Homo sapiens: one gene and its partner. Each later gene encodes a partner of the first gene's protein in a complex. Each region holds a gene or a part of one and is shown in the gene's direction. Other genes may lie near its edges. The genes, in order: DVL2 and AXIN1.

Region 1 (12,139 bases):
GGGAGTTGCTGAGGGTGAGGGGGGCATCGGCGGCAGCAGCGGTGGCTGCTGTGGAGAGAGAGAGAGAGTGGCTGGTTGGGGGGAAGGGGCCAGAGTTGAGGGGTCCATAGCCTAGTAACTGGGTGGTGAGTACGGGGGCGGAGGGGGGGGCGGCGGCCGGAGAGGGCTAGGAACAGGGCCGGGGGGCCCGGTGGGGAGCCCGAAAAGCTGGAGACGGGGAGGGGCCAAAGCCCCGGATGGGGGCGGAGGGACGGCGAAATTGTGGGGAGCGCGGTATGGGCGGGGGGGGGGGGGCAGGTGGGGGCCGCGTCCGGGTTAGAGCTCCCGGGTCTGTCCCGGCCGTGAAGTAGCGTTGGATGCGTGTGCCTGTGTGTGTCTGGGGTGGGGGTGAGGGGCGCGCCGGGCCGCGTGCTCGAGTAGAAGGGGCCGGAGGGCGGGGAGCGGTTCGGCGTGGTCATCCTGGACCCTGGGGGCTGGCGGGCGGCGTGTGCGGTCTCGGAGGGCCCGAGGCGGTGGAGCGCGGCCGGGTAGGAACTCGGGGCTCCGGGCGCGTGTGAAGGACGGGGGCGGCTGGCGGCGGCCCGGACGCGGCCCCGGGAGCGGTACGGTGGGGTGGGGCGCTGAGGGATCCGAGTAGACTGGAGTCGAGAGAGACCGTGAGTTGGGGGGGCGGGGCGCCGGGCCTCCGGTTGGGGGAAGGGGAGCGCTATAGCGAGGCCTCAGAGGGCGCCGCGCCCAGGCTCCGCCCCTCGCGGGGCGGAAGGGGGAGCCGGGGCGGATCCAACACAGCTGGGGGCCTGCTGGCCTGGCAGAGGGACCTGGGAGAGCAGGGGGTTCACTTAGGAACAACGGGGTTTAGAGGGGGAGTTTTACACAGATTGTTCCTAGTGTCTTGACTCAGCTTTTATTGCTTTTCCAGATCCACCTCCGACCCTTAAGCCAGAGACTCAGGTGAGGTTTGCCTTACCTTTGCAGCCTAGTAGCCCTGCCTGACAACGCCCCCCGCCCCCCTTTTCTAGACCTCACTTAGGGACTGTGTTTCTGGGAATGCCATTCTTAAACTGTGTGGCTTTGCATGTGATCCATATCTCCTTCCTTTCAGCCACCAGAGAAACGGCGGAGAACAATTGAGGATTTCAACAAATTCTGCAGTTTTGTTTTGGCATATGCTGGTTACATTCCCCCTAGCAAAGAGGTAGGGGCAAGAGAATTACTGACTTGAGGCTGGTGTGGTGGGACTATAGAGTGACTGTTGTTCAAACAGAACTGTATTGCTTTATAGAAGGAGGCCCTTAGAAATTATATGTAAGACCAGGGAAGTTGGAGACTCTTAGGGCTGTGGTAGGAAAGCTGGTATGCGGGGAGTGGATGGCCGGGATAGCTAGCTTGAACAGCAGTGAAAAGGAAGGGGGATTTGGAGTCGCTGGTTGAGATTTTGGCATAGTCTTGAGGTGCTGTGAATGGAAGGTGTTTATGGATAAATTTTAGGGAGATGAAAATGGTAACAAATGAGGCTATACAGAAAAAGAGCTAAGGACATAACGGCTCCGGTCTGGGTGATACAGTGTTCCACAGGCCCTGGGCAGGGGCAGCGGTGAGGTGTCAGACTTGAGGGTAGAGGTAACACGGACTGGTCAAGAGGACATGCTGATGGGAATTGGGGTGGGGAGAAGTTTTTGGAGTACAGTGGGATTTAGTGGTTGAGGTAGGACATTTTGGGGTAAATCCAGTCACTCCTTTTCAAGCTGGGTTTGTGGAGGGGCTGAGATGACACTGGGGTTCTGCTGACCCTGGTCTCTTCCCCCTTTTAAGGAAAGTGACTGGCCAGCCTCTGGCTCCAGCTCTCCATTGCGAGGAGAGAGTGCGGCCGACAGTGATGGCTGGGACTCGGCCCCCTCAGATCTTCGAACCATCCAGACTTTTGTTAAGAAAGCAAAGTCATCCAAGAGAAGGGCAGCTCAAGCAGGTCCCACCCAGCCAGGACCCCCAAGGTCCACTTTCTCTCGTCTGCAGGCCCCCGACAGTGCTACCTTGCTTGAGAAGATGAAGCTCAAGGACTCTCTCTTTGATCTGGATGGGCCCAAAGTGGCATCTCCTTTGTCCCCCACATCCCTGACACATACCTCCCGGCCCCCTGCTGCTCTTACCCCCGTGCCCCTTTCCCAGGGGGACCTCTCCCATCCTCCTCGAAAGAAGGACCGAAAGAACCGAAAGTTGGGGCCAGGAGCTGGGGCTGGCTTTGGGGTGCTTCGGAGGCCTCGGCCAACTCCTGGGGATGGGGAAAAGAGATCTCGAATCAAGAAGAGCAAGAAGCGGAAGTTAAAAAAGGCAGAACGGGGGGATAGACTCCCACCTCCTGGGCCTCCCCAGGCACCCCCCAGTGATACAGACTCTGAAGAGGAGGAGGAAGAGGAGGAAGAGGAAGAAGAAGAAGAGATGGCAACAGTGGTAGGGGGTGAAGCCCCAGTCCCTGTGCTGCCAACACCCCCTGAGGCTCCTAGGCCCCCTGCCACAGTGCACCCTGAAGGAGTCCCTCCTGCTGACAGTGAAAGCAAGGAGGTGGGCAGCACTGAAACAAGCCAAGATGGAGATGCCAGCTCCAGTGAAGGCGAGATGCGGGTCATGGACGAGGACATCATGGTAGAATCAGGTGAGAGGTTCGGGCTGGGGCGAGGGGTTTGAGGGTGTTGTGGATCCAACAGCTCAGGCAGAATACCAAACAAACCTTTTTTTCCCCAGGTGATGACTCATGGGATCTGATCACATGTTACTGTCGAAAGCCCTTTGCAGGGCGGCCCATGATTGAGTGCAGCCTGTGTGGGACGTGGATCCACCTCTCCTGTGCTAAGATTAAGAAGACCAACGTCCCCGACTTCTTTTATTGCCAGAAATGCAAGGAACTGAGGCCAGAGGCCCGGCGGTTAGGGGGGCCTCCCAAATCTGGAGAGCCCTGATGGCACCAACTTTAGCCTGGAACTTCCAAATGACAACATGATTTGGGAACTGAGCCTCAGGGTCCTCAGCCTATCCCCTGGAGCTTGGATACTGTCTGCACTTCAAGGCAGGAATTCTCAAGGGAGACTTGTTTGAAAATGAGTGTCTCACTTTCCCACCCTATCCTTCCTCCCCACTCTGTGGACTTGAAATTGAATCCATTACGGTTGGGGATGGGAGGCTGTCTGTGTCCCGACACATAATCTCTGTCTCTTGGACCTGCCACCATCACTTTCTGGGTCAGGATTGGAATTGGGATGGAATGGGACAGTTGTCTATAAAACTCTAGTGTAAATATTAGCACTCCCCTCCCTCATCTTTTCTTCTATTTCACTCCCCATTTATTTTCTTCTACACCGGTTGTATTTTTAATTTTGGACTTCCCCTATTGGGCATGGCAGCTCAAAGGTGGAGTACTAGAGCCTGGCCAAGTGAGGAAGGAAAGCAGAAAGGTGACGATTCTCACTCACCTCTTTTGTTTTTAATAATATCGGCCGCTGTTTGTACAGACAGCCTGCGTGTTGTAAATAAAGCAGAGTGGGCTCTTTTGTGTTTATAGCCCTCACTGTCCTGCTCGGGAGGGAGGCTTTGGTGGCTGAAGACTAGCTGGAGGTGGGGCTGAAACCCACGTCTCAAAGTCCAATCTGAAGATATCACAGCACTGGGCCTTTCCCACCCCAAGACAAGTAAGCCACCTTAGAGCTTTCATTGTATTTGGCCCTCCCCACTCGAGTCTAGGAACCCCCACAGTCCCCACCTTCACTCCCTGCACGCACACTCCTGCGGGTCAGAGTTGCTTCGTGCTCCATCGTGGGTGGGGTAAAGCGGGGTGGGAGCCGATGGTCCGTTTCCTGAAGGCACAGGCCAGCTTAGCCTGGGTGCTCAGAGGACCTCGGCTGGGGTACACGTTTGGGGGCTGGGAGACCGTTGCTGAAGGCAGCGATCATGTGGCGGGGGCACTAGGCGGAGTCAGACGGTCACGTGATTGGGAGGGGATCACGTGACGGAGGGCGGCTGAGGAGCGCGGGGTGGCTGCCTTTAAGTCACGTGACATGAGGAGAGGTGGGCGGGTACCTGGAGGAAGCTCGCGGCGTCGGTGGCGGTGGCGCGCGGCGGCCGCTGAGACCGGGGCTTTGAGTCGCACCCCGCGGCCCGCCCCCCGCCGCCACCCTCGCAGATCCGTGCTTTTTCCCCTTTGCTTCTCTCCCGTACTGGGTCAGTCCTGTCCGCGCTCGCGCGTCGGTTTGCGGGTGTGCGCAGGCGCGGCAGGGGCCATTAGCCCTTTGGGTGGGCGGTGGAGCCCGGGAGCGCGCGGGCGAGACCATGGCGGGTAGCAGCACTGGGGGCGGTGGGGTTGGGGAGACGAAGGTGATTTACCACCTGGATGAGGAAGAGACTCCCTACCTGGTGAAGATCCCTGTCCCCGCCGAGCGCATCACCCTCGGCGATTTCAAGAGCGTCCTGCAGCGGCCCGCGGGCGCCAAGTACTTTTTCAAGTCTATGGATCAGGATTTCGGGTGAGCGCAAGGCCTAGATAGGACCGGCGGGGGCTTTGCTAGAGTGGATTGGGCGACATGGAGGGGCACACGTCTACTTTGGGCCACACTGGGATTTTCTGGCCTATGGTGGAGCAGATTGTACTATGCTGAGGTAGGTTGACTATCCCAGGATGGACAAGGTTATGCTTGGATAGATTGAGGCACACGGACAGACTAGGATATCCTAAACCAGATTAGACAAGATTAGGCTTTACTGGAATAGGTGGGGGCATACTGGTTTATGTTGGAGTATTCTAGTCTGTACTGAGTAAATTGATCCATTGTCTGGTTGTTTAGTACGTTCTCAGGAGTCCTGTAACGCCTGTAATCCCAGCACTTTGGGAGGCTGAGGCGGGCGGATCACGAGGTCAGGAGATCGAGGCCATCCTGGCTAACACGGTGAAACCCCATCTCTACTAACTAAAAATACAAAAAATTAGCCGGGCGTGGGGGCACGCGCCTGTAGTCCCAGCTACTTGGGTGGCTGAAGCAGGGAGAATCTCTTGAACCTGGGAGGCGGAGGTTGCAGTGAGCCGAGATCGCGCCACTGCACTCCAGCCTGGGCGACAGTGCGAGACTCCGTCTCAGAAAAAAAACAAAAAACACTTGGGCCATTATGGACTCTACTGGGTTGTATTGGTTAATCCTGGTTTCTCTTGGGGCAAGACTTGGTTTTATTGGAGCACTCGGTATAGGGGCAGACAAGGCTGTTGGGGCCTGTGCTAGCACAGGCAGCCGTATTGGGATGTTCCAATCTAGACTGGTGCAGACAGCTGCGTGTGGGGGCATTGTAGGCTGTGCTAGAATAGATTGGGCTATCCTAGGGTAATTTGGGACATTCAGGGCTATCTTGGACTAGATTGGCGTGTAAATAATGCAGAGAAAGCCCTTTTGTGTTTATGGTCTTTGGGGCTGAGCCTTCTGGGTCCTCAACCTCTGCTTTTTTTTTTTTTTTTTTTTGAGACAGTCTCGCTCTGTCGCCCAGGCTGGAGTGCAGTGGCGCATTCTCAGCTCACTGCAAGCTCTGCCTCCCGGGTCCACGCCATTCTCCTGCCTCAGCCTCCCAAGTAGCTGGGACTACAGGCGTCCGCCACCACACCCGGCTAATTTTTTGTATTTTTTAGTAGAGACGGGGTTTCACCGTTTTAGCCAGACTGGTCTCTGACTTCTGACCTCGTGATTCGCCCGCCTCAGCCTCCCAAAGTGCTGGGATTACAGGCGTGAGCCACCGCGCCCGGCCCAACCTCTGCTTTTTTGAAGGCAGGCTGGATTAAGTTGGGATAGCATGGGTTTTAGAAGAACTGAACAAACTGGACTCTAGCTAGAAAGATTGTTTGACATGGGGATGCTGATACTATCTTGGGAGTTATCTTGGCTTTAAGGCAAGGTTTTTCTAGTTGTCAGCAATGTAATCTTGGACAATTTATTTAAATTTTGTGTCTTGATCTCATCTGTGACATGGAGAAAATCACAGAATGAAATGGTTAGTTCACGTGTGTGGCACACGGGAAATTCTTGGTGAATGGTAATTGTAATTAGCATTGAGGCTGACCACTCTGTAAAGTAGGTTATGGTGATACAGAATAATTTGCCTCAGAGTGGACCAAGCTGTGCTGAGATTGTGTTATGTTGGGAAGAATCCTACATTATGCTGAGACGGGTTAGTAGTGACTGGGCTGTGTTGTCACGTTGACAGCAAATGGATTATGTTGATATATATCCTGGCTCCCATGACCATATTAGGCTAACGGGTTAATTAGACAAGGTGTCCTAATTTGGGGCTAAGGTTGTGTGTGGAAAGAGAGAGAGGAACAACTAGGGTAGAGAGTCTGATGCTTTATACGTTTATTCATTTAGTCGACAGTATTTGTTAATGCTTAAGTGTCAGTGTGTGGTGTGTGGCTAGGACATGGTGTTGACCAGAGTAAGTGTTCATGGTTTGATGTCATGGTCAAGAAGAAGGGGCAAGTCCGGTCCACCACAGGGAACCCATTGGAGAGATGACCCCAAGGCTGGGCTTTGGGATCTGTCAGGTTGAGCAGATTGCTTTGTGCAGAATTTTGTGCCCAGTGAGGCACAGGGGAATGGGAACCCCAGCTTGCCCTCTCCTTGGGAGCTTTCAGTCTAATGAGGAACTTCCATTGTTTGTTTGATCCAATGGGTGGTTTTTTTTTTTTTTTTTTTTTCTGAGGTGGAGTCTCACTCTGCCCAGGCTGGAGTGCAGCGGCGCAATCTCAGCTCACTGCAACCTTCGCCTACTGGGTTCAAGCGATTCTCCTGCTTTGGCCTCCGGAGTAGCTGGGATTATAGGTGTGCACCACCATGCCTGGCTAATTTTTATATTTTTAGTAGAGAAAGGGTTTCACCATGTTGGCCAGGCTGGTCTTGAACTCCTGACCTCAGGTAATCTGCCCACTTTGGCCTCTCAAAGTGCTGGGATTACAGGTGTGAGTCACTACGCCTGGCCTCTAATGGGTGTTTTTACTCAAGAAAGGACAGTCTTCTAGAAATGAATTAGAGAAAACTAAAGGAAAGTATAAGAGTAGAGGCTTTGATGAGGACCAAAGCCTTTTTTGGAAGGTTTTTTTTTTTTTTTTTTTTGAGCCGCCCAGGCTGGAATGCAGTGGCGCGATCTCGACTTACTGCAACCACTGTCTCCCGGGTTCAAGCGACTCTCCCATCTCAGCCTCCTGAGTAGCTGGGATTATAGACACCCACCATCATGCCCGGCTAATTTTTGTATTTTAGTAGAGATGGGGTTTCACCATGCTGGCCAGGCTGGTCTTGAACTCCTGACCTCAGGTGATCCGCCCGCCTCAGCCTCCCAAAGTGCTGGGATTACAGGTGTGAGCCACCGTGCCTGACCTTTTTGGAAGGTTTGTAAGGAACAGGGGTGGGGTTGAGAGGAGGCCACCAGCCAGTCTCATTAGATAGGTATCTCAGGCAGCCGCATCAGCGTGCGGGATTGCTTTTGAAACTGGACTAAGAGGTTTGAGTCAGACTCAAGGAAGTCTTTGGAGCAGCACTGTGCCCCTGAGGGTGCGTTAGGGAGAGGAGAAATAAGGAAAGGGGATTGAGTTTGGAGATTTCTTAGGTGTCGGAGTGAGTTCTTTCAATGTAAGAGAAGACCTGAACAGGGCAGGAGAAAGTCAACATCCTGGAGCCAGGTGAAGATTGGGAGAAAGTTTGATGGGGGTCGGGGTGGGGATGGTTGGTCCAGCTCACTGACCTCTACCTTGTCGCTTGGCAGGGTGGTGAAGGAAGAAATTTCAGATGACAACGCCCGCCTCCCCTGCTTCAACGGAAGGGTGGTATCCTGGGTAAGAGGTTCTGACACCGAGGACCAGGCCCCCTCAGCATTGCCAAGCTCCCTCAAGCCTCAGTCTGTTTCTGTATCCTCCCCAGGCCGCGCGTTAGCAGCCCTGGCTCTTTACCTCCTGTCTGTTTGGAGAGCCGGCGAGAGGCCCTCAGCCTTCTCCTTCTGGAGTCTCTAATACTTGCTAGGTTTTTTTGCTCTTCTCCAGCTCTCTGAGACCCTTTCTCATTCTTTCACTTACTGCCACCTGTCACACCCTGACTCCCAAGTGAGCCACTGTTTATCATTTGCACCCTTCTAGCTGGTGTCCTCAGATAATCCCCAACCCGAGATGGCCCCTCCAGTCCATGAGCCTCGGGCAGAACTGGCGCCTCCAGCCCCACCTTTACCTCCTTTGCCACCCGAGAGGACCAGCGGCATTGGGGACTCAAGGCCTCCATCCTTCCAGTGAGTCCTTCAGATTCTTGACTGCAGGGGAGGGAGGTGAGGAGGGAACCCAGGCCTTTGGTAGGGGACGCCTAGGATCCGGAGCCCTGTTCTCCTGATGTGGGTTGGAAACCATCTCTGCCTGTCCAGCCCTAATGTGTCCAGCAGCCATGAGAATCTGGAGCCTGAGACAGAAACCGAGTCAGTAGTGTCACTGAGGCGGGAGCGGCCTCGCAGGAGAGACAGCAGTGAGCATGGCGGTGAGGGGCAGGCCTGGGGGCCGGGAAGGGCTGGGCCAGACCCCAGCCTTGGTGGGGTGAGCAGGGGGAAGCTTGGTTCTTGAGCTTCCTGTCCATATGTAGCTGGGGGCCACAGGACTGGTGGCCCCTCAAGGCTGGAGCGCCACCTGGCCGGATACGAGAGCTCCTCTACCCTCATGACCAGCGAGCTGGAGAGTACCAGCCTGGGGGACTCGGACGAGGAGGACACCATGAGCAGGTGTGGCTCCGCACAGCTCTCCCCAGCGCACCCAGCCCCGTCTCGTCTTCCAGTCAATCCTCTTGTTCTTTCTCTTGGCCCCATGACCACTTTGGCCTACGTTTGCTCTCCTTCCCAACCTCCTGGTAGGTTCAGCAGCTCCACGGAGCAGAGCAGTGCCTCCCGCCTCCTTAAGCGCCACCGGCGGCGAAGGAAGCAGAGGCCACCCCGCCTGGAGAGGGTGAGGGGTTCCTACAGGAAGGCTGGTGCTGGGAGAAGGTGGGGCATGGGCTTTGGTTTGGGCGGTGCCAGGACACCGGCAGCACCCCAGGGTTGACCCTGGGTTATTGAAGGGCACTCTGGCTCCTTTTCCCACCACAGACGTCATCCTTCAGCAGCGTCACAGATTCCACAATGTCTCTCAATATCATCACAGTCACGCTAAACATGGGTATGGGGAGAGCCTGTGGCTAGGGCGTGGGGAGGGCCTGGTCTCTAGGGTTCCGGGCGTCCTGTGGCAGGGGCTCCTCTTTTCACATGGCCTCTCTCCACAGAGAAGTACAACTTCCTGGGTATCTCCATTGTTGGCCAGAGCAATGAGCGGGGAGACGGAGGCATCTACATTGGCTCCATCATGAAGGGTGGGGCTGTGGCGGCCGACGGGCGCATTGAGCCAGGGGACATGCTTTTGCAGGTGTGCTGGGGTAGGGCCACTGAGCTGCCCTGCACGGGGGCCCTCAGCCTCTCCCACCGTGTCTCTGACCCACTTGCCGTCGCTTCCAGGTGAATGACATGAACTTTGAGAACATGAGCAACGATGACGCTGTGCGGGTGCTGAGGGACATTGTGCACAAGCCTGGGTGAGTTGCCAAGCAGGTTGCCGGTCCTCAGTCCTCTTTTTTTTTCTCTTTCATGTTTTGTTTTGGAATTTTAATAAGTACTAAGACAGCCGGGCGTGGTGGCTCGAGCCTGTAAACCCAGCACTTTGGGAGGCCCAGATGGGTGGATCACCTGAGGTGAGGAGTTCGAGACCAGCCTGACCAATGTGGTGAAACCGTGTCTCTACTAAAAATAGAAAAATTAAGTGGGCATGGTGGCACATGCCTGTAGTCCCAGCTAGTGAGGTGGCTGAGACAGGAGAATCACTTGAACCCTGGGGGGTGGAGGTTGCAGTGAAACGAGATCACGCCACTGCACTCCAGCCTGGGCGACAGAGCAAGACTCCGTCTCAAAAAAAAAAAAAAGTGCTAAGACATAACGTTCAAAGTACATGAAACAAATGCATGACATAGCAAATAATACTAGAGTAAATATCCATGTCACTGCCATCTAGATCATCAAATAGGAGATTGCTGATACCCTAGAACTTCCTCCTCAGATGTCCCTTCCTGCTCCCAAATGCCTCACTGCCCCAGGGGTAGTCACTCTCCTGACTTCTTTGGCCATCACCATAACAAAGAAAAGCTTTGCCTCACTGGATAGTTACCACCCTTGCACGTATCCTTGAACACTGCAGTTTCGTTTTACCTGTTTTTGGACTTTCTGTGAATGGAACTGTACAGCGTGTACTCTCTTGTCTCACTTGGCAGTATGTTTTTAAGAGTTTTCCATGTTGATGAGTCATCCACATTGTGGTGCCTTCCACCCTCACCTTCTCTAGCCCAGCCGCGATGTGCTTGCTTCTCCCCCTCTTTGTGTCTCTTAATCCATCCTTGCTTCAGACCCCCGCCCTCCTGAGGCCTCCTCTTCCCCTGCGCCCTTGACTGGACTTCTCTTCCCCATAGCCCCATTGTGCTGACTGTGGCCAAGTGCTGGGATCCCTCTCCTCAGGCCTATTTCACTCTCCCCCGAAGTGAGTGACACTCAGGGAGGGGCCTGAAGTTGGGGGTGGGGGCTGCCCAGGAGGCTGGGGCCGGGCCTGTGGTCATGGGGAATGGGTGGGAGGAGGGTCCAGGCAGAGGTGGAACAGGAGGCTGAGTCAGGGAGGGACTGGGCTGGCTTTTGGGGACTGAGAATGGGTCATTTTGGTGCCATCTTTGTCCCAGATGAGCCCATCCAGCCAATTGACCCTGCTGCCTGGGTGTCCCATTCCGCGGCTCTGACTGGCACCTTCCCAGCCTATCCAGGTTCCTCCTCCATGAGCACCATTACATCTGGATCGTCTTTGCCTGATGGTGAGCCGCCAGCCCACCTCATCCCACCCTCCCAGCAGAAGGCTGTCCCGCAGTGGTCTGATCCATTGCCCTTGTGGGAGCGATCCCTGACTCTGGTTACCCGTTGTCTCCTCTGCCAGGCTGTGAAGGCCGGGGTCTCTCCGTCCATACGGACATGGCATCGGTGACCAAGGCCATGGCAGCTCCAGAGTCTGGACTGGAAGTCCGGGACCGCATGTGGCTCAAGATCACCATCCCTAATGCCTTTCTGGGTATGGCTGGGTCCTGGGCAGGTGGCTGGAGAAGGGGAGGAGGTGGTGACCAAAGCCAGGAATGGCACAGGCAGAGGCGAGAGCAGGAGTTGGAAGAAGAACCTGAGGCCTTTTTCCACTGTGGGTGCTCCCAGGCTCGGATGTGGTTGACTGGCTCTACCATCACGTGGAGGGCTTTCCTGAGCGGCGGGAGGCCCGCAAGTATGCCAGCGGGCTGCTCAAAGCAGGCCTGATCCGACACACCGTCAACAAGATCACCTTCTCTGAGCAGTGCTATTACGTCTTCGGAGACCTCAGTGGTGGCTGTGAGAGCTGTAAGTCCCCCTGCCCCAACTCTGGGAGTGTGGCTTTGCCTACCTTGTTCTGCCTCTCCAACCCTAGACCTAGCCCAGAAACCGCAGCCAGGGCCACCATGGATGGTCGAGCAGTGTGTGTCCCGCACTAGGTCCTGCACTGGCCGAGGATGGGGGCTGACGTCCACCCATGTGCTGCTGGACAAGCCATGTGCCAGGTGCAGGACTGTGTCCACCGGGGGAAGGTGCACCTCTTACCTGAGTCCCGCAAAGACGTGGGCTAGTGGCTGTGCCCCTGCCCTCATGGCAGAAGTAGATGGGAGTTTCTTGTCAGAGACCCTTGTGAACCCCTGTTTTGAGCCCCATCGTGGGTGGGTCTGGGAGAACTGTTCCCAGTTCCTCTCCATTCGGTGTCTTGGGGCCCTAGCCTCTTGAAGCAGTGATTTCTTCCTCTCTTCCCTTGCTTTCCAGACCTAGTCAACCTGTCTCTCAATGACAACGATGGCTCCAGTGGGGCTTCAGACCAGGATACCCTGGCTCCTCTGCCTGGGGCCACCCCCTGGCCCCTGCTGCCCACTTTCTCCTACCAATACCCTGCCCCACACCCCTACAGCCCGCAGCCTCCACCCTACCATGAGCTTTCATCTTACACCTATGGTGGGGGCAGTGC
Region 2 (16,368 bases), on another chromosome or scaffold:
CGCGCCTCCCTGCCCCTCCTCAGGGCCTTCCTCTACCTCTCTTCTGCCTGGCCTGCCTCTGGTCTCCTCCTACCCCCACTAGGCTCAGAGAATCTCCCCTCCACACCCACACCACAACCTACTTTAGAAGGGCTGCTGCATTTCCTCCAGGCTTTCTGACCCCCTTCCTGTCCCTGCAGGGCAGGGGCCCCGAGGAGCTGGAGGCCCAAGGGCCTTGTTCTGGTCCCAGGGCCTGGGGACACCTGCCACCGAGGGCCAAGAGGAGGATGGACGTGGACACAGCCCCGAGAGCCTGGCCCGGACACAGCAGCAGCTCTGCAGAACCAAGGCAAGCATTGGGGACCTTGTTGGGAGTCGGGGGGCAGCCCAGGGGCCAGTGTCTGAGGTCCTGCTGTCTGTCTGGCCACCCAGGACTCCCTCATCCCTGGAAACTGTGCTTTACCATGGAGGCCACCCACTCTGTCTCCTCTAAGGTTCTGAGGCTGAATGGGCTAGGGGGCTTGCGGGGAGGCCCCAGTGTCCAGCACTGTGGGACCTGGCAGGGTGCCTGCGGCCAGGACCCAGCGGGGCCAGGTGTTGGTCTAACAGTGCAGCTTCGTTCATATCCCCAGCCCCTGCCCACCTGCTCTGAGCACAGTGATGGCCCTGGGAGGTGGGCCTGGGCCCTTGGCAGGCTGGGGACAGCCTAGTGGCCCTTGTCCCATGCTACCCCCTTTCCCACACAGCGATGCTGGCATCAGACACCATGCTGAGTGCTGGCAGGGGCGAGGGCTGGGAGGCTTCCACACATGGTTCCCCATGCAGTCCCACCTGTGGGCATCTGGTTGGGGGTAGGCTGGAAGCTCGGGGAGCCTGGAGCTGGGACTTCTGTGCTTGCCTGGGAGCTCTGAAGGGTGAGGCTGGGCATCCAGGGTGACACAGCCCAGGGAAAGACATGGGGGTGACGTGAGAGGTGCCTGGAGGGAGCTGGCAGGTATGGACATGATGGACACGGAAGCACGGAGGCGGGCAAGTGGCCAGACGCATCTAGGGGAAGGTGTGGGGGAGGCGCCCTTAGGAAGGGCCCTGAAGGGCTGTGGGCAGCAGGGAGCCCTGGGAGGCCTAAAGCAGAGGGCAGATAGATGAGGGCTGTTGTCTCAGGTGTGGGGCGGACGAGGTGGGGAGCCCTCACCCAACAGGAGGCGAGCTGGTCCTGTGTGGCCTGAACTGCAGCTGTCTCCTCTGTGAAACGGGGGTATAGCTGACCCCAGGGGGCTGCCTGGAGCATCCCGGGAGGTGCCAGGCCCAATAGTGCTCTGGGAAGGACAGGGCCCTGGGCTGTTGTGGGAGGCGGCAGATCCTGGTACTCACATCCTCCTCCTTGGGGAGGGCCTGATGGTTGGCTGAGGCCTGGGTGGAGAGCAGAGGGTTGGTTCTGACAGGGTTGGGCTGGCCAGAGCTGGTGCTGGGGCTGCTGCTGGGGGCCCGTGCCTCTCTGCCGTGGGGTGCCTGGGGCTGTGACCTCATGCTCTGTGGCCTGCAGGGCAAGTGACACGGATCTGGGCAGCCAGGGTGGCAGGATCGGACTGGACCCCTTGGCAGGGCCGCTGTGGAGACAGCCCAGGGGAAGGGGTGCAGGGGTCTGGACACTCCAATGGCCTTGCTCTCGGGCTGGCCTGGGCAGCGGAGGGAAGGAGAACCCTTCTCTGATACTAGATGGTGCCTGGGAGAAATCAAGGCAGAGGGTCCTAGCCGGTGGGCTCTTTGGAGGTTGTGGCTCCTGTCCGGGTGAGAGCCACCATATATTGGGGCCTAACGTGTTCCCTGGCGCTGTGAGTCCAGGCTGCCTTGGGACTCAGGAGGGTGGAGCCCACCCCACCTTCCAAGGGCCCTGGCCATCCCTGCCTGCCGACCACCCCACTCCTGGGAGCCTGCTTCCCTCACGGCGGCGGGCAGGCCGTGGCGGTCCCCACGAGGGCCTCCTCTCCAGGGCCGGCTGGGCAGGGAGCCCCGAGGCCTGCAGCCCCCTGACTGCCCTCCGATGTACTGGCGGCAGAAAAGGGCTGCGCCCCACGTGCGCCCTTCGGGGCGCGCAGTCCGCCCAGTGCTCCCCACGGCCGCGGCCATTCCAAGGACCTGCAACGCCGCCTCTCCCACTCCGCTCTCTGGGAAGCCAAAGCCTCCCGGGCTCCGCTTCCGCACCGCCCCTCGGGAAGACGGCGCGACCGCGCCCCCGGCACGCCCCGCCCCCGGCAGGCACTGACCACGCCCTCTCCCGGCCATGCAGAGACCCCGGCCCATGTTTCTCAACTCGTCTTCTCGCTTCCGGCCCCGCCCCGCGCCGGAGGCCCCGCCCCACGCTCTTTACCTCTTCTGCTCGAGGCGGGCCCCGCCTTACTCCCTGGTCCCCGCCCCACGCCCGAGGCCCCGCCCCGAGCTCTTCACCTCGTCTTCTCGCTTCCGGCCCCGCCCACGCCCCGGCCCCGCCCCGCGCTCCTCACCTGTCCCCTCGCTGTCGGCCCCGCCCCACGCTCCTCACTTTATCCTCGCGCTTTCAGCCCCGCCCCGCGCCTGAAGCCCCGCCCCACACCCTTTACCTCGTCCCCGCGCTGCCGGCCCCGCCCCGTGTTGAGGCCCCGCCCCGCGCTCTCACCTCGTCCCCGCGCCCCGGCCCCGCCCCCGCACTTCCGGACGCCGCCGGCGGGGGCGCTCGGGCCTGGGCTTCGGCGCTCTGGCTCGGGCTCTGGCTCGGGAGGCGATCGTGGCCGCTGCCGCCGCCAGAGCCGGCCGGAGTCGGCCCGGAGCCGCGTCCACGCGGAGCGGGCGGGTGGGAGCTGGCGGCTGGGCCCCTGCGGCGCCCCCGCGGCCTGCCCCGCGTCCGCCTCCGGGCCGCCGAGCCGCAGCCGCCGAGATGGGGGCCGCCCCGGGCCGCGCCCCCGCCGGGTCCCGCCCGCCGCGCTGCCGCTGAGCGCATGGGCCCGGACCGCGCCGCGCCGCTCCGGGAGCCGGGCCCGGGGTCCCGCCACCACCGCGCGCGGGTGAGTAGGGCCGGGCTCCGGGGCGGGCTAGGCCGCGGTAGGCCGGGCGGGCGGGACCCGGAAGCGGCGGGGGGCGCGGGTGGCTGACGCGCGTGGGACCGAGGGGGTGGGCGCGCGGGGAGCTGGGGCCGGGGTGTCCCTGGGCAGCGGGACTGGCGGCGCGGTGGCCGCTTGGAGGTCCGAGGCCTCGGGCGCGTCTCGGGGCACGGAGCAGCTGCAGGGGCCGCGCATCGCGTGCGGGGGCCCGGGAGAGCCGGGCCTGGAGCCCTCCCCGCCGCCCAGAAGTCGGCGGGAGTCCGGCTGTCCCGGAGGAGGACACTCCCGCCCGCCCTCGCCGAGGCCGCGTGCCGGGTCCGGGTCGGGGTTCGGCCTGAGTAGCCGCGTGCTCCGGCGTCCGTACCCTCCAGGTTGATGCCTTGCTGCCCAAACACTGGTCTTTCTCTTGGGTGTGGTTCTTAGATTCTACCCCCGCCCCGCACTTTGGAATTTAGCCCCCGTGAAACCAGAGCTGCACTGCCCGAGCAGTGAAACTTTCAGCTTGGCATTGAAGAAAGTAGAGAAAAACATGTCAGTTCTCTGGGGATTTTTCTCAGCCCATCTATAAGATATATATATATATATTTTTTGTAGAGATGGGGTGTCACTATATTGCCCAGCAGGTGTTGAATTCTTGGCCTCAAGCGATCCACCTGCCTCAGCCTTCCAAGGTGTTGGGACTACAGGGGTGACCACCGTCCTCTAAGATAATTTTTTTTTTTTGAGACGGAGTCTCGCACTGTAGCCCAGGCTGGAGTGCAGTGGCGCTATCTTGGCTCACTGCAACCTCCGCCTCCCGGGTTCAAGCAGTTTTCCTGCCTCAGCCGCCTGAGTAGCTGGGATAACAGGCATGCGCCACCACATCCGGCTAATTTTTGTATTTTTAGTAGAGACAGGGTTTCACCATGTTGACCAGGCTGGCCTGGAACTCCTGACCTCAGGTGATCTGCCCACTTTGGCCTACCAAAGTGTTGGGATTACAGGCGTGAGCCACCGCGCCTGGCCCCTTCTAAGATAATTTATAAAGGGTTCTTATGTGCATGTCAGCCCCTTGTTTTTGCTCACACTTCTGTTCTCTGCTTCTTCAGGAAGAATCTCGAGCTTACTTGGATCCACAGGCCCTATTTTGGAGAAAACACAGTCTAAACCGGCTACCCGAGATACTCAGCAATAGCTCGGTTTCAGTTTTTTTTTTTTTTTGAGACAGAGTTTTGCTCTTGTTGCCCAGGCTGGAGTCCAATGGCGTGATCTCCGCTCACCGCATCCTCCGCCTCCCAGGTTCAAGCGATTCTCCTGCCTCAGCCTTCCCAAGTAGCTGGGATTATAGGCATGCGCCACCAAGCCTGACTAATTTTGTATTTTTAGTAGAGATGGGGTTTCTGTATGTGGGTCAGGATGGTCTTGAACTCCCGACCTCAGGTGATCCGCCCACCTCGGCCTCCCAAAGTGCTGGGATTACAGGCGTGAGCCACCTCACCTGGCTTTGGTTTCAGTTTTAAGATCTCCATTCAGGGACAAGGATGGGAAAGCATGAAAAACAGACTGTTTTTGTTTGATTTTCAGCTGGTGTTGACTTGTCTTGGGTTTCTAGTTTCAGAAAAGCTAAGCAGACTTTTTCGGATTACATTGGTCATTGAGAATTTCAGTGATGGGGGAATAAATTACATGTGAAATAGTAGCCCTGAACCTTCAAGAGTTAAATCAATGGACAGCTGGGAAGATGTCAGAGTCGTGTTGTGTTACTTGCCTCCTCCATGTAAATCAAAATGTCAAAAGTTACGTTTGGGTAAAATAAATACCTACACACGTAGGTAGCATTGAGTTTGCTGCCATGATGCCTGGAGCATATGCCTAAGCGGTGACGAAAGGGAATTTTAAATACAGTATCATACTTGTAGGCATCCCGCCCGTTTTATGGACTCACTTTATTGATGGTAGCTACAGGCTGTGGGCCAGATTCAGTGCTTGCAGGCATTTGATACTGAACTGAGTAAACGTGACTGCTTTATGTGTGGTGTGTACTTGTGTGTACACTAAATGCTTGGTGTGCTTCCCTGTGGGAACCCAGAGATTTCAGGAATTGGGACATGTTTCAACAACATCAGTAGCTTGTAGAGGGGTTCATGTGCTTCCAGGGACACCAAAAAGTCTTCTGTCAGTTGACAGCCAAAAATACACATGATTGTAAGAAAATTTTCTTCTGGGCTCTGAAAATTTGGTTCACACATGAATTAAAACATTAGTTTTGGGGCCAGGCAAAGTGGCCTGTAATCCCAACACTTTGGGAGGCCGAGGCGGGTGGATTGCTTTGAGCTCAGGAGTTTGAGACCAGCCTGGCCAACGTGGTGAAACCCAAAATACAGTAATTAGCCGGGCGTTGATGACTCGTGCCTGTAGTCCCCGCCACTTGAGAGGCTGAGGCTGGAGAATTGCTTGAGCCTGGGAAGCTGAGGCTGCAGTGAGCTGAGATCGCCCCACTGCAGTCCAGCCTAGGCGACAGAGCGAGACCCTGTCTCAAAATAACAAAAAACAAAACAACAAAACCCATTAGTTTTGGAAGAATTTGCTGCTGTTTTCTGTGGTACAGTAGTTCAGCCCCTGTAGAGAGCCAGTGTTTGGCGTCTGTGACAAATGTCTTTTCTTTTTTACATCAGTGAATGACTTACTGGTGCCCGTTAGTTGCAGGACCTTGTGCTGGGTGCTGTGGGTCCCGCTACTACCAATAATTAACACAGAAGACTTAAGTCCCTTATGAGAGCATGATGGTGACTTGTGGTTAGCCTCCCTTCTGAGCACTGTCTGATTAATCACTTTCCACTCTCCGGTGACTTGGTTCTTCAAGCTAGTGAATGGTAGTACATCTATAGTGGTAAGGCTCAGGTGGTCAGGGTGCAGGCCTTCTTTCCTGTGATGGCGTCCCAGACAGATGACCGTGAGCTAGTGTGGAGGTGCCCACGCCCAGGGTGCTCCCTCCATGCTGATGTGGCTCACGGAGTGACTGCCGCTGAAGTGGTCTGTGAGCAGCAGGATGTCACAGCTCACTGGGCCTTGACCTTTAGAAGCTGTGTGTTCCTGCTGAGGCCAAGATGACATACTACCCAGCAGCGTTCACAAAAAGTCCTTAGCTGCTGAAATGTCATTGGGGGCACATAGTTGCAAACCATCCTCCATCTATGGGTGCTTCTTATTTATTTACTAATTTTATTTTATTTTATTTTATTTTATTTTTTTGAGACAGAGTCTCACTCTGTCGCCCAAGCTGGAGTGCAGTGGCCGGCGCGGTGTCGGCTCACTGCAAGCTCTGCCTCCCGGGTTCATGCCATTCTCCCACGTCAGTCTCCCGAGTAGCTGGGACTGCAGGTGCCCACCACCATGCCTGGCTAATTTTTTGTATTTTTAGTAGAGATGGGGTTTCACCGTGTTAGCCAGGATGGTCTCGATCTCTTGACCTCGTGATCCGCCCGCCTTGGCTTCCCAAAGTGCTGGGATTACAGGTGTGAGCCACTGTGCCCGGCCTATTTTTTTTTTAGAGACAGGATCTTGCTCTGTTGCCCAGGCTGGAGTGCAGTGGGGTGCGATTATAGCTCACTGCAGCCTTGAACTCCTGGGTCAAGTGATCCTCTTGCCTCAGTCTTCCAAGTAGCTGAGACTACAGGCATACGCTACCATACCCGGCTAATTAAGAACTGTTTTTTGGTAGAGATTGGGTCTCACTATGTTGCCCAGGTTAGTCTTGAACTCTTGGGCTCAAGGGATCCTCCAGCCTCAGCCTCCTGAGTAGCTGGGACTACAGGTGCGTGACACCACGCCTGGCTCTGTGGATCCTTCGTGCTTCCAGCCGTGAGCAGCTGTTGGCTGGTAAAGTGTGTGCAATGTGAGGAAGTTGGTGTGGGGGACAGATTCCACATAGACAAGGGACAGCAGTGTGGAGTGGTGGCTGGGGGATAGATCCCCCTTCAGTTGGTCCTGGGTTTTAGGGTTTTATTTGTTTGCTGTGACTTGTTCAGCACTCTAGGCTTTTGAACCCAACATGCTTCTCTAAAGCCCTCTCTCCAGCCCCTTTTAGCCAGGACCACTTACATCATGGCAGGCTGTTGTTTCAGTCACCTGCATGGCCGGGTTGACAGGCATAGCCAGAGCTCCTGGGCTCCTGTAGGACGTGGCAGGAAGGACCATAGACCATGGCAGGGGTTCTGTTGGAGCCCTTATCTACTCTCTTTTGCACACCCCTTGCAGGCTTGTAGCAGCAGCAGCAGTAGTAGCAGCAAATTCTATAGTTCCCTGATGTCTAAGAGGGTGGGTGGTTTGGTTTTCAGCTTAAGGAGTGAAGTCACATGAACTATAGCTTCCTTAGCTAAAAATTGTATTTGCATTTCCTTTTATTCTGTACCTTCTCTGTTCCTTGAAGTACCCATTTACTATTTGCTATCTGAATCCTCATCAGAGAGGCTTTTCAGAGTCAAGTGCAGCATTCTGACAGAGCATTTTAAGATTGTCTCCAGTGACGGTGTCCGAGCGCCTCTGTGGGCCTGGGTGGTGTCCTTGATCCCTCGGTCGATGGGGCTGAAGGTGACCCATGATTATCTCTCTTTGAGGCGTGTGTTGAGAGTCGGAGGAACACCCTGCAGTGTGTTCTCATGTGTCGGAAGGTGTACCACGCGTGACGTGATGCAGCAGGTAGAAAACAGTGGCCGTGGGCCTGGAGGACGTGGGGTTCAGAAGACGCCCACCACCTTCGGGGCTGTAGCGCACCTTCCTTTCTCTCTGAGTGTTGCTGGGGCTGGTGGAGCGATTGTCTCCATCTTACTTGTGAGGGTCCAGCCCTCACTCAGGTTTGTACACATAGTCAGGACTAGAGGCAGCTTTCCTTCCTCCGGTCTTCCTGCCTTCCCTGTCCCTCAGCTCTGCAGCTGAGGTGGGAGGTGCTCAAGCTGCCAGCCTCCGTGATGTTTGTGCAGTGAGACTTGTGGGGAGTGGCATTCCCATGTCCTGGGCATCCCTTCTTAGCATGAGAGGCATTCCTGTAGTTGTAAAAGTTTCCAGAAATTGCTTTAAAGTAGAACTATGCTTGTGGCCAAAATATATCTTGATTGAACATTTAAACTGAGTTTCTTGCTTTGAGTTTGAGCGGGAGGGCGTCATCGTGAGTCTTGTCTTGAGAAAACCTCTGGTCGTGTTTCATGGACCCACCTTTCCTAATCCTTGTCCTCTTAATGGTTTCAACAGGACAGATTGATTCACTTTGGAGCTGTAAGTACTGATGTATTAGGGTGCAGCGCTCATTGTTCCTTGACGCAGAGTCCCAAAATGAATATCCAAGAGCAGGGTTTCCCCTTGGACCTCGGAGCAAGTTTCACCGAAGATGCTCCCCGACCCCCAGTGCCTGGTGAGGAGGGAGAACTGGTGTCCACAGACCCGAGGCCCGCCAGCTACAGTTTCTGCTCCGGGAAAGGTGTTGGCATTAAAGGTGAGACTTCGACGGCCACTCCGAGGCGCTCGGATCTGGACCTGGGGTATGAGCCTGAGGGCAGTGCCTCCCCCACCCCACCATACTTGAAGTGGGCTGAGTCACTGCATTCCCTGCTGGATGACCAAGATGGGATAAGCCTGTTCAGGACTTTCCTGAAGCAGGAGGGCTGTGCCGACTTGCTGGACTTCTGGTTTGCCTGCACTGGCTTCAGGAAGCTGGAGCCCTGTGACTCGAACGAGGAGAAGAGGCTGAAGCTGGCGAGAGCCATCTACCGAAAGTACATTCTTGATAACAATGGCATCGTGTCCCGGCAGACCAAGCCAGCCACCAAGAGCTTCATAAAGGGCTGCATCATGAAGCAGCTGATCGATCCTGCCATGTTTGACCAGGCCCAGACCGAAATCCAGGCCACTATGGAGGAAAACACCTATCCCTCCTTCCTTAAGTCTGATATTTATTTGGAATATACGAGGACAGGCTCGGAGAGCCCCAAAGTCTGTAGTGACCAGAGCTCTGGGTCAGGGACAGGGAAGGGCATATCTGGATACCTGCCGACCTTAAATGAAGATGAGGAATGGAAGTGTGACCAGGACATGGATGAGGACGATGGCAGAGACGCTGCTCCCCCCGGAAGACTCCCTCAGAAGCTGCTCCTGGAGACAGCTGCCCCGAGGGTCTCCTCCAGTAGACGGTACAGCGAAGGCAGAGAGTTCAGGTGAGTCCGACGCCAGGCGTCCACTTTCTGTACTCACCTCCGAGAGCTGGAGAACAAGCCAGGGAAAGGTGCTGATGAGGCGGGCGTTAACCCACACCGGATGTCCTGCTGCCGCTGGGGTTGAATTTTGGTTCTGTTCTTATTTGTGATACTTTTGCATTTGTCATTACTTTTTTATATTTGTAATGTTGAGAACACTTTTACTGAGAACAGACTAAAATATATGACTTTATGAGTCATTAGGAACATCGGAATTCTTAGAAGTCACAATGACATGTAAACTTTACCCTTCAGCAGTAAAGTCTGTCACCTCTTAAATAGGAGCTGGATCTACCCAGTAGACATGGTCCTTTCCGCTTAATAAAGGGAGGAGTGGACGTTTCAGGGCATCGATAAGAATTGGAGAATTGGATTCTTGCTTTTTTTTTTTTTTGAGACGGAGTTTCACTTTTGTTGCTCAGGCTGGAGTGCAATGGTACAATCTCAGCTCACTGCAACCTTCGCCTCCCGGGTTTGAGCGATTCTCCTGCCTCAGCCTCCTGAGTAGCTGGGATTACAGGCATGTGCCACCACGCCCGGCTAATTTTGCATTATTAGTAGAGGTGGGGTTTCTCCATGTTGGCCAGGCTGGTCTCGAACTCCCGACCTCAGGTGATCTGCCTGCCTCGGCCTCCCAAAGTGTTGGGATTACAGGCGTGAGCCGCCGCATCCGGCCAGATTATTGCTTTTATAATGATCTTCTAAGCTTCTTCCTACAGGCTGAGAAATAGCAGGGGGGACGTTTTACGTGTGGGGAATGGTCAGAGTACTTTGAAAACTTCCTGTGGCTATAGTGGGCATTCCAGGATTGGGCCTTTTTTCCTGCCAACAAAATCTGTTGGTGCTGTTGTGTAGTCCACAGCAGCCTGGACCCTGAGGCGATCCTGGCAGGGCCTGTGGGGTGCGTGTGTTGCCTGGGAGGGAGCAGAGTGGTGCTCAGCCTTGGAACCTGTTTCTTCGTTCTTCCTTCCCTGTGATCCCTGCGTGGTTCCTGGAGGTTTATTTGGCTTTCGGGCTGGCATCTACTGTGCTTGTGAGCAGAGCGCATGCATTTCCCACTCTTTCCCTAGAGCTGGTGACCGGAGGCTCCGGCCTGTGTAACTTTGAAAGCCTGGAATTCATGTGACCCCTGCTGACCTAATCAAGACTCCGAAAGCACAGCCCCATGTGCTGGGACTCTCCTGAGGAGTTATTAAAAACTCGCATTAGTTCTTCAAGCTTACTGTGACACAGAAATTGGCTACTCGCTCATCAACACAGGATTAAACATGTCTAAGGTTAAACTTGTAGTCTAAGTGATACGATTTAAGATGGACTGTCGACTGGGCGCAGTGACTCACACCTGTAATCCCAGCACTTTGGGAGGCCGAGGCGGGCGAATCACCTGAGGTCGGGAGTTCGAGACCATCCTGGCCAACGTGGTGAATCCTCATTTCTACTAAAAATACAAAAATTAGATAGGCGAGTTGGCGCATGCCTGTAATCCCAGCTCCTCGGGAGGCTGAAGCAGGAGAATCGCTTGAACCTGGGAGGCAGAGGTTGCAGTGAGCCTTGGTTGTGCCATTGCACTCCAGCCTGGGCGACAAGAGGACAAGAGTGAAACTCTGTCTCAGAAAAAAAACAAAAAAAAAACAAAAAAGGATTGTGTAGGTTAATTGGTTAATTTTTTTTTTTTTTTTGAGATGGAGTCTTGCTCTATCGCCCAGGCTGGAGTGCGGTGGCGCCATCTCGGCTCACTGCAAGCTCCGCCTCCCAGGTTCACGCCGTTCTCCTGCCCCAGCCTCCCAAGTAGCTGGGACTACAGGCGCCCGCCACCATGCCGGCCAATTTTTTGTATTTTTAGTAGAGACTGGGTTTCACCATGTTAGCCAGGATGGTCTCGATCTCCTGACCTCGTGATCGCCTGCCTCAGTCTCCCAAAGTGCGGGGATTACAGACGTGGGCCACCACGCCCGGCCTTTTTTCCCTTTTGTTCATTGTCTTTAGCCAAGTGGTATTTATTTAGCAAGCATTTTAGGACACAATATGCCGCAAAGTTATCCTGTTGAGTAAGCCTGGTATAAACTGAGAGTTTCTTTCTTTCTTTCTTTTTTTTTTTTTTGAAATGGAGTCTCGCTCTGTCACACAGGCTGGAGTGCAGTAGCACTATCTCGCTATCTCGGCTCACTGCAACTTCTGCCTCCTGGGTTTAAGTGATTCTCCTGCCTCCCGAGTAGCTGGGATTACAGGTGTGTGCTACCATGCCTGGCTAATTTTTGTATTTGTGGTAGAGACAGCGTTTCGCCACGTTGGCCAGGATGGTCTCGAGCTCCTGGACTCCAGTGATCTCAGCCTCCCAAAGTGCTGGGATTACGGGTGGGAGCCACTGCACCTGGCTGGTTATTTTTTTTGCTTGTTTTTTTGTTTGAGATGGAGTCTCGCTCTGTCGCCCAGGCTGGAGTGCAGTAGTGCAATCTCAGCTCACTGCAACCTCTGCCTCCTGGGTTCAAGTGAGTCTCCTGCCTCAGCCTCCCGAGTAGCTGGGATTACAAGTGTGAGCTACCATGCCCAGCTAATTTTCTGTATTTTTAGTAGAGATGGGGTTTTACCACGTTGGCCAGTCTGGTCTCGAACTCCTTTCCTCAAGAGATCTGCCCGCCTCAGCCTCCCAAAGTGCTGGGATTCCAGGTGTGAGCCACTGCGCCCGGCCCCGGCTGGTTATTTTTAAGATGGGACTGAAGTTGAGGGCTGGGCTGCAGGAGGAAAATGAGCTCCGTTCTGATTTCCACTGTTGGAACCCCAGTGCCTCCCTCCCAGCCACTCTTCAGTTCTTGGCTGCGAGCAGTAGCTTTGCTGTCTGTCCTTGGTTTGCTGTATTTGTAATAAGGAACCTTTGCTATGAAATTAGTGGGATACATTGGCTTCTCCTGTCTAATTTTGTGTAGCTCTGTCTACACAGTTTGGGTCCTAACTTGACTGCTCTGGGGCTGCTGGTGGCAGAGGACCCTGGGGCTTGGGAGTCGTGTCTGCGGTTGAATCCTCTCTGTGGGAGGTGGCCTGTGGTGCAGCCTTGTGGCTTGAAGATCTCTGATGTTGGAATGGTTGCTTGTCAGCACAGACAGGGCATGAAGTCCAGGCTGCGTTCCTCACATTTAGACCATTCTCTTTGTCCTGCCAGGTGTAGGTGAGGGTGCACTAGGTTGGAAGTCGTGGAAACCCACCCACCTGAGCCCAACCCTGAAGGGCACTGTTGAGGCAGAGCCTCAGGTGTGCCTTAGGGCCTGGCACCTTTGCTTTGTGCCATTCTGACTTTGCCTGCCTGGTGGGCGACTTCGTGGGCTTTGTGTTGGAGGTGGCTGCTGCAGTGACCTTGGGCTCTGGGCTCCCTTGTTTACAGATGCTTCCCGCAGCTCTGACGGATGGGCCCGCTGTTGCTCTGAGGAGGGCACGTGTGCCGCTGTGTCCCGTCTGTCTCAGCACAGTCACGGTGCGTGCGCTGGGGGCTGTGCAGCAGGGTCACTCCTGAAGGAAAGTGGGTTCTCCACCCAGACAGACGGCTGCTCCCCAGTGGGGAGCTGGGGGCAGTCCTCCAAAGGAAGGCTGCGGGTAATGCAAAGGGAAAAGGAGAGTGGGTACTGAACAGGCGGCTGGTGAGCATTGCTACCACAGCAGGGCCTGGAGCTTAGGCCTCACGTGTTAGGGGATGCATATCCTGTGGAGAGCCGGTTAGTCGTCCCGGTGTGTCCGGAATTGGTGGGTTCTTGGTCTCACTGACTTCAAGAATGAAGCCGCGGACCCTTGCCGTGAGTGTTACAGTTCCTAAAGGCGGCCTGTCCGGAGTTTGTTCCTTCTGACGTTCGGAGGTGTTCGGAGTTTCTTCCTTCTGGTGGGTTCGTGGTCTCACTGGCTTCAGGAGTGAAGCTGCAGATCTTCGCGGTGAGTGTTACAGCTCATAAAGGCAGTGTGGACCCAAAGAGTGAGCAGCAGCAAGACTTACTGGAAAGAGAGAAAGAACAAAGCTTCCACACTATGGAAGGGGACCCGAGCGAGTTACCACTGCTGGCTCCCGCAGCCAGCTTTTATTCTCTTATCTGGCCCCACCCACATCCTGCTGATTGGTAGAGTCCAGTGGTCTGTTTTGACAGGGCGCTGATTGGTGCGTTTACAATCCCTGAGCTAGACACAAAGCTTCTCCACATCCTCACCAGATTAGCTAGATACAGAGTGTCCACACAAAGGTTCTCCAAGTCCCCACCAGAGTAGCTAGATACAGAGTGTCGATTGGTGCATTCACAAACCCTGAGCTAGACACAGAGTGCTGATTGGTGTGTTTACAAACCTTGTGCTAGATACAGAGTGCCGATTGGTGTATTTACAGTCCCTGAGCTAGACATAAAGGTTCTCCACGTCCCCACCAGAATCAGGAGCCCAGCTGGCTTCACCCAGTGGATCCCGCACCGGGGTTGCAGGTGGAGCTGCCTGCCAGTCCCGTGCCGTGCGCCCGCACTCCTCAGCCCTTGGGTGGTCAATGGGACCGGGCGCTCGTCGGGGAGACTCGGTCCGCACAGGAGCCCACGGAGGGGGTGGGGGGCTTAGGCATGGCGGGCTGCAGCTCCCGAGCCCTGCCCTGCAGGAAGGCAGTTAAGACCCAGCGAGAAATTGAGCGCAGCTCCGGTGGGCCGGCACTGCCGGGGGACCCAGCACACCCTCCGCAGCCGCTGGCCCGGGTGCTAAGCCCCTCATTGCCCGCGGCCGGCAGGGCTGGCCGGCTGCTCTGAGTGCCGGGCCCACCAAGCCCACGCCCACCCGGGACTCCAGCTGGCCTGCAAGCGCATGCAGCCGCGGTTCCCGCTCGCGCCTCTCCCTCCACACCTCCCCGCAAGCTGAGGGAGCCGGCTCCGGCCTTGGCCAGCCCAGAAAGGGGCTCCCACAGTGCAGTGGTGGGCTGAAGGGCTCCTCAAGTGCCACCAAAGTGAGAGCCCAGGCAGAGGAGGCGCTGAGAGCGAGCGAGGGCTGTGAGGACTGCCAGCACGCTGTCACCTCTCACCGGGGTGGAATTTGCGTGGAGGAACGTGCCAGGAGGGCCAGCCCTCGGGTGCTGACCCCTCTGTCCTGGAGGCTACTTTGCCTGCATCTCTGCCACAGTCGCTCATCCCCTGCGGTGGGGCTGCTGCGGTCCAGCACGGCCACAGGCATCCAGTTCCCCTGTGGGACGCCTGAGTGCGGGTCCTTGTTGGTCCGTGTGTGAGCCGCGTGGTGGTTTCACATACTTGATTTGAGGAAAGTGAAGTGTTCTGCTTAGGTCTTTGTCTCAGCCTAGGAAAGAGCTCCATTCCTGGCCCTTTTCTGTGTTTGTCCCACTCACCCACTGTCATTTTGAGCTCCTGGGCCAAGGTTTCATGGGGTTCCTCCCTGGCTCCCCCGCTCTGCCTCTGTGGGAACACTTTCTGCACCCTCGGGTCTTTGTTCCCATTGTCAGTGGAACTTTGAACAGAGCTGGCTGGTTCACCTCGTCATTTCAGCGGTGTGGATCAGCAGGCAGGTTCTGCTGTTGACTGAGTGTTGGGCGGGAGGCCCAGGGCCTGCACTCCCTGGCTGGCGGGCTCAGGCTCTGCTTCCCTTCAGGGTGGCTTGGCCCACCAGGTGGCCTTCAGGGCTGGCCTTGCATGCCCCTGCCAGGTCCGCTTGGTCAAGCCCGCAGTCTCCTCGCCGCTGGCCCCTTCTGTTGACTGCCCTGACCTTCCTTGATGACTGGGGACAGGGTCTTCCTGGATATTTTCGTGTGTCTTCCCGGGCCAGTCCAGTGATGCACTTGTGGATAGGGCTGGTCAATGTGGCTGTGGCCAGAGAGTGGACAACAGACATGTCCACAGCAGGAGCAACATGGTGGCTTGTCTTGGGCTGCTGGTTCCTGGAGCTGCTCAGAGGACCGGTGGGTCCTTTCGAGGTGGGCAGCCAGCCCTTGCCGTTCAGGTTCCCGCAGGGGTGCGTGAGGAACCGTCGGACCTGCTCATTAGTTTATTGACTGTGTTTCTGGTAATGGCCTAAAAGGTTAAGAGAAGAAATGGTTAAAAAAAAAAAGAAGAAGAAGAAGAAGAAAAAGAAAGGGCCCAAAATGTGTACAGAGTTGTCTGTGGAGGAGTGGTTTTGGGTTTCCATGTCCGTTGGACCTCAGGCGGTGGTGCTGTTGAAGGTGCCCGGCTGCAGAGGGGCTGTGTTGCAAGGGTGAACTCTGCTTCCTGTGCAAAGGGTGTGGCCCAGGGTGGGGTCGCCCCCAGGCTTGTCTTGTTAAGGGGACCTCTGCTGTGGTGCAGAGGGGGCAGAGGTGCTTGTGAGCCATACTGCCCCTTGCGTGGGCTCCCCTTGCCTGGGTGTGGGGGGTTTCTAGTCTCCTTTGGGGTATTTGCTTCCCCTGTTTGAGCAGATCTGAAGAGAATTTTTTTTTTTTTTTAGACAGTCTTGCTCTGTCACACAGGTTGGAGTGCAGTGGCACCATCTCGGCTTACTGCAGCCTCCGCCTCCCAGGTTGAAGCAGTTCTCCTGCCCCAACCTCCCCAGTAGCTGGGATTATAGGCACCTGCCGCCATGCCTGGCTAATTTTTTTTTTTTTTTTTTTTTTGAGATGGAGTCTCGCTCTATCGCCAAGGCTGGAGTGCAGTGGCACAATCTTGGCTCACTGCAAGCTCCACCTCCTGGGTTCAAGCACTTCTCCTGCCTCAGCCTCCTCAGCAGCTGGGACTACAGGCGCGTGTCACCACGCCCGGCTAATTTTTTTTTTTTTTGTATTTTTAGTAGAGACGGGGTTTCACCTTGTTAGCCAGGATGGTCTCGATCTCCTGACCTTGTGATCCGCCTACCTCAGCCTCCCAAAGTGCTGGGATTACAGGTGTGAGCCACCACGCCCGGCCTTTTTTTTTTTTTTTTTTTTTTTTTGAGACCAGGCTGGCTGGTTTTGAACTCCTGACCTCAAGTGATCTGCCCGTCTCGGCCTCCCAAAGTGCAGGGGTTGCAGGTGTGAACCACCACACCCTGCCCAAAGGGAAATTTTTTTTGTTTGTGGATGTCCAAGGAAAACTTTAAAAATGATTCCTGGCCAGGCACGGTGGCTCATG

The links.
Region 2: the proteins of DVL2 (region 1) and AXIN1 are in contact, whole or in part, in a crystal structure (PDB 6JCK), measured with the Homo sapiens proteins. Residues at the interface, in NP_004413.1 of Homo sapiens: Lys15 (codon at 4,360), Ile17 (codon at 4,366), Tyr18 (codon at 4,369), Glu23 (codon at 4,384), Glu24 (codon at 4,387), Thr25 (codon at 4,390), Pro26 (codon at 4,393), Tyr27 (codon at 4,396), Leu28 (codon at 4,399), Val29 (codon at 4,402), Val46 (codon at 4,453), Leu47 (codon at 4,456), Gln48 (codon at 4,459), Arg49 (codon at 4,462), Pro50 (codon at 4,465), Phe81, Arg84; in NP_003493.1 of Homo sapiens: Arg821, Tyr823, Lys825, Lys826, Glu830, Phe831, Val835, Val836, Phe837, Glu838, Glu839, Lys857, Glu859, Asp862.

Annotation. Positions count from the first base shown.
Region 1 is NC_000017.11:7,226,441-7,238,579, reverse strand, and holds the start of DVL2 (segment polarity protein dishevelled homolog DVL-2), read left to right. Parts: upstream 1-4,062; 5' UTR 4,063-4,317; coding exon 4,318-4,511; intron 4,512-7,385; exon of another isoform or gene 7,386-7,699; intron 7,700-7,782; coding exon 7,783-7,852; intron 7,853-8,149; coding exon 8,150-8,295; intron 8,296-8,424; coding exon 8,425-8,534; intron 8,535-8,636; coding exon 8,637-8,772; intron 8,773-8,901; coding exon 8,902-8,992; exon of another isoform or gene 8,993-9,030; intron 9,031-9,132; coding exon 9,133-9,202; intron 9,203-9,305; coding exon 9,306-9,445; intron 9,446-9,534; coding exon 9,535-9,611; intron 9,612-10,535; coding exon 10,536-10,603; intron 10,604-10,796; coding exon 10,797-10,925; intron 10,926-11,044; coding exon 11,045-11,176; intron 11,177-11,310; coding exon 11,311-11,490; intron 11,491-11,621; coding exon of another isoform or gene 11,622-11,650; exon of another isoform or gene 11,651-11,693; intron 11,694-11,940; coding exon 11,941-12,139. Other genes in the region: PHF23 (PHD finger protein 23), read left to right, coding at 920-951, 1,103-1,195, 1,813-2,650, 2,740-2,954.
Region 2 is NC_000016.10:339,018-355,385, reverse strand, and holds the start of AXIN1 (axin-1), read left to right. Parts: upstream 1-2,662; 5' UTR 2,663-2,951; coding exon of another isoform or gene 2,952-3,017; intron 3,018-8,279; coding exon of another isoform or gene 8,280-8,360; coding exon 8,361-9,238; intron 9,239-16,368. UniProt on the Homo sapiens protein: Component of the beta-catenin destruction complex required for regulating CTNNB1 levels through phosphorylation and ubiquitination, and modulating Wnt-signaling.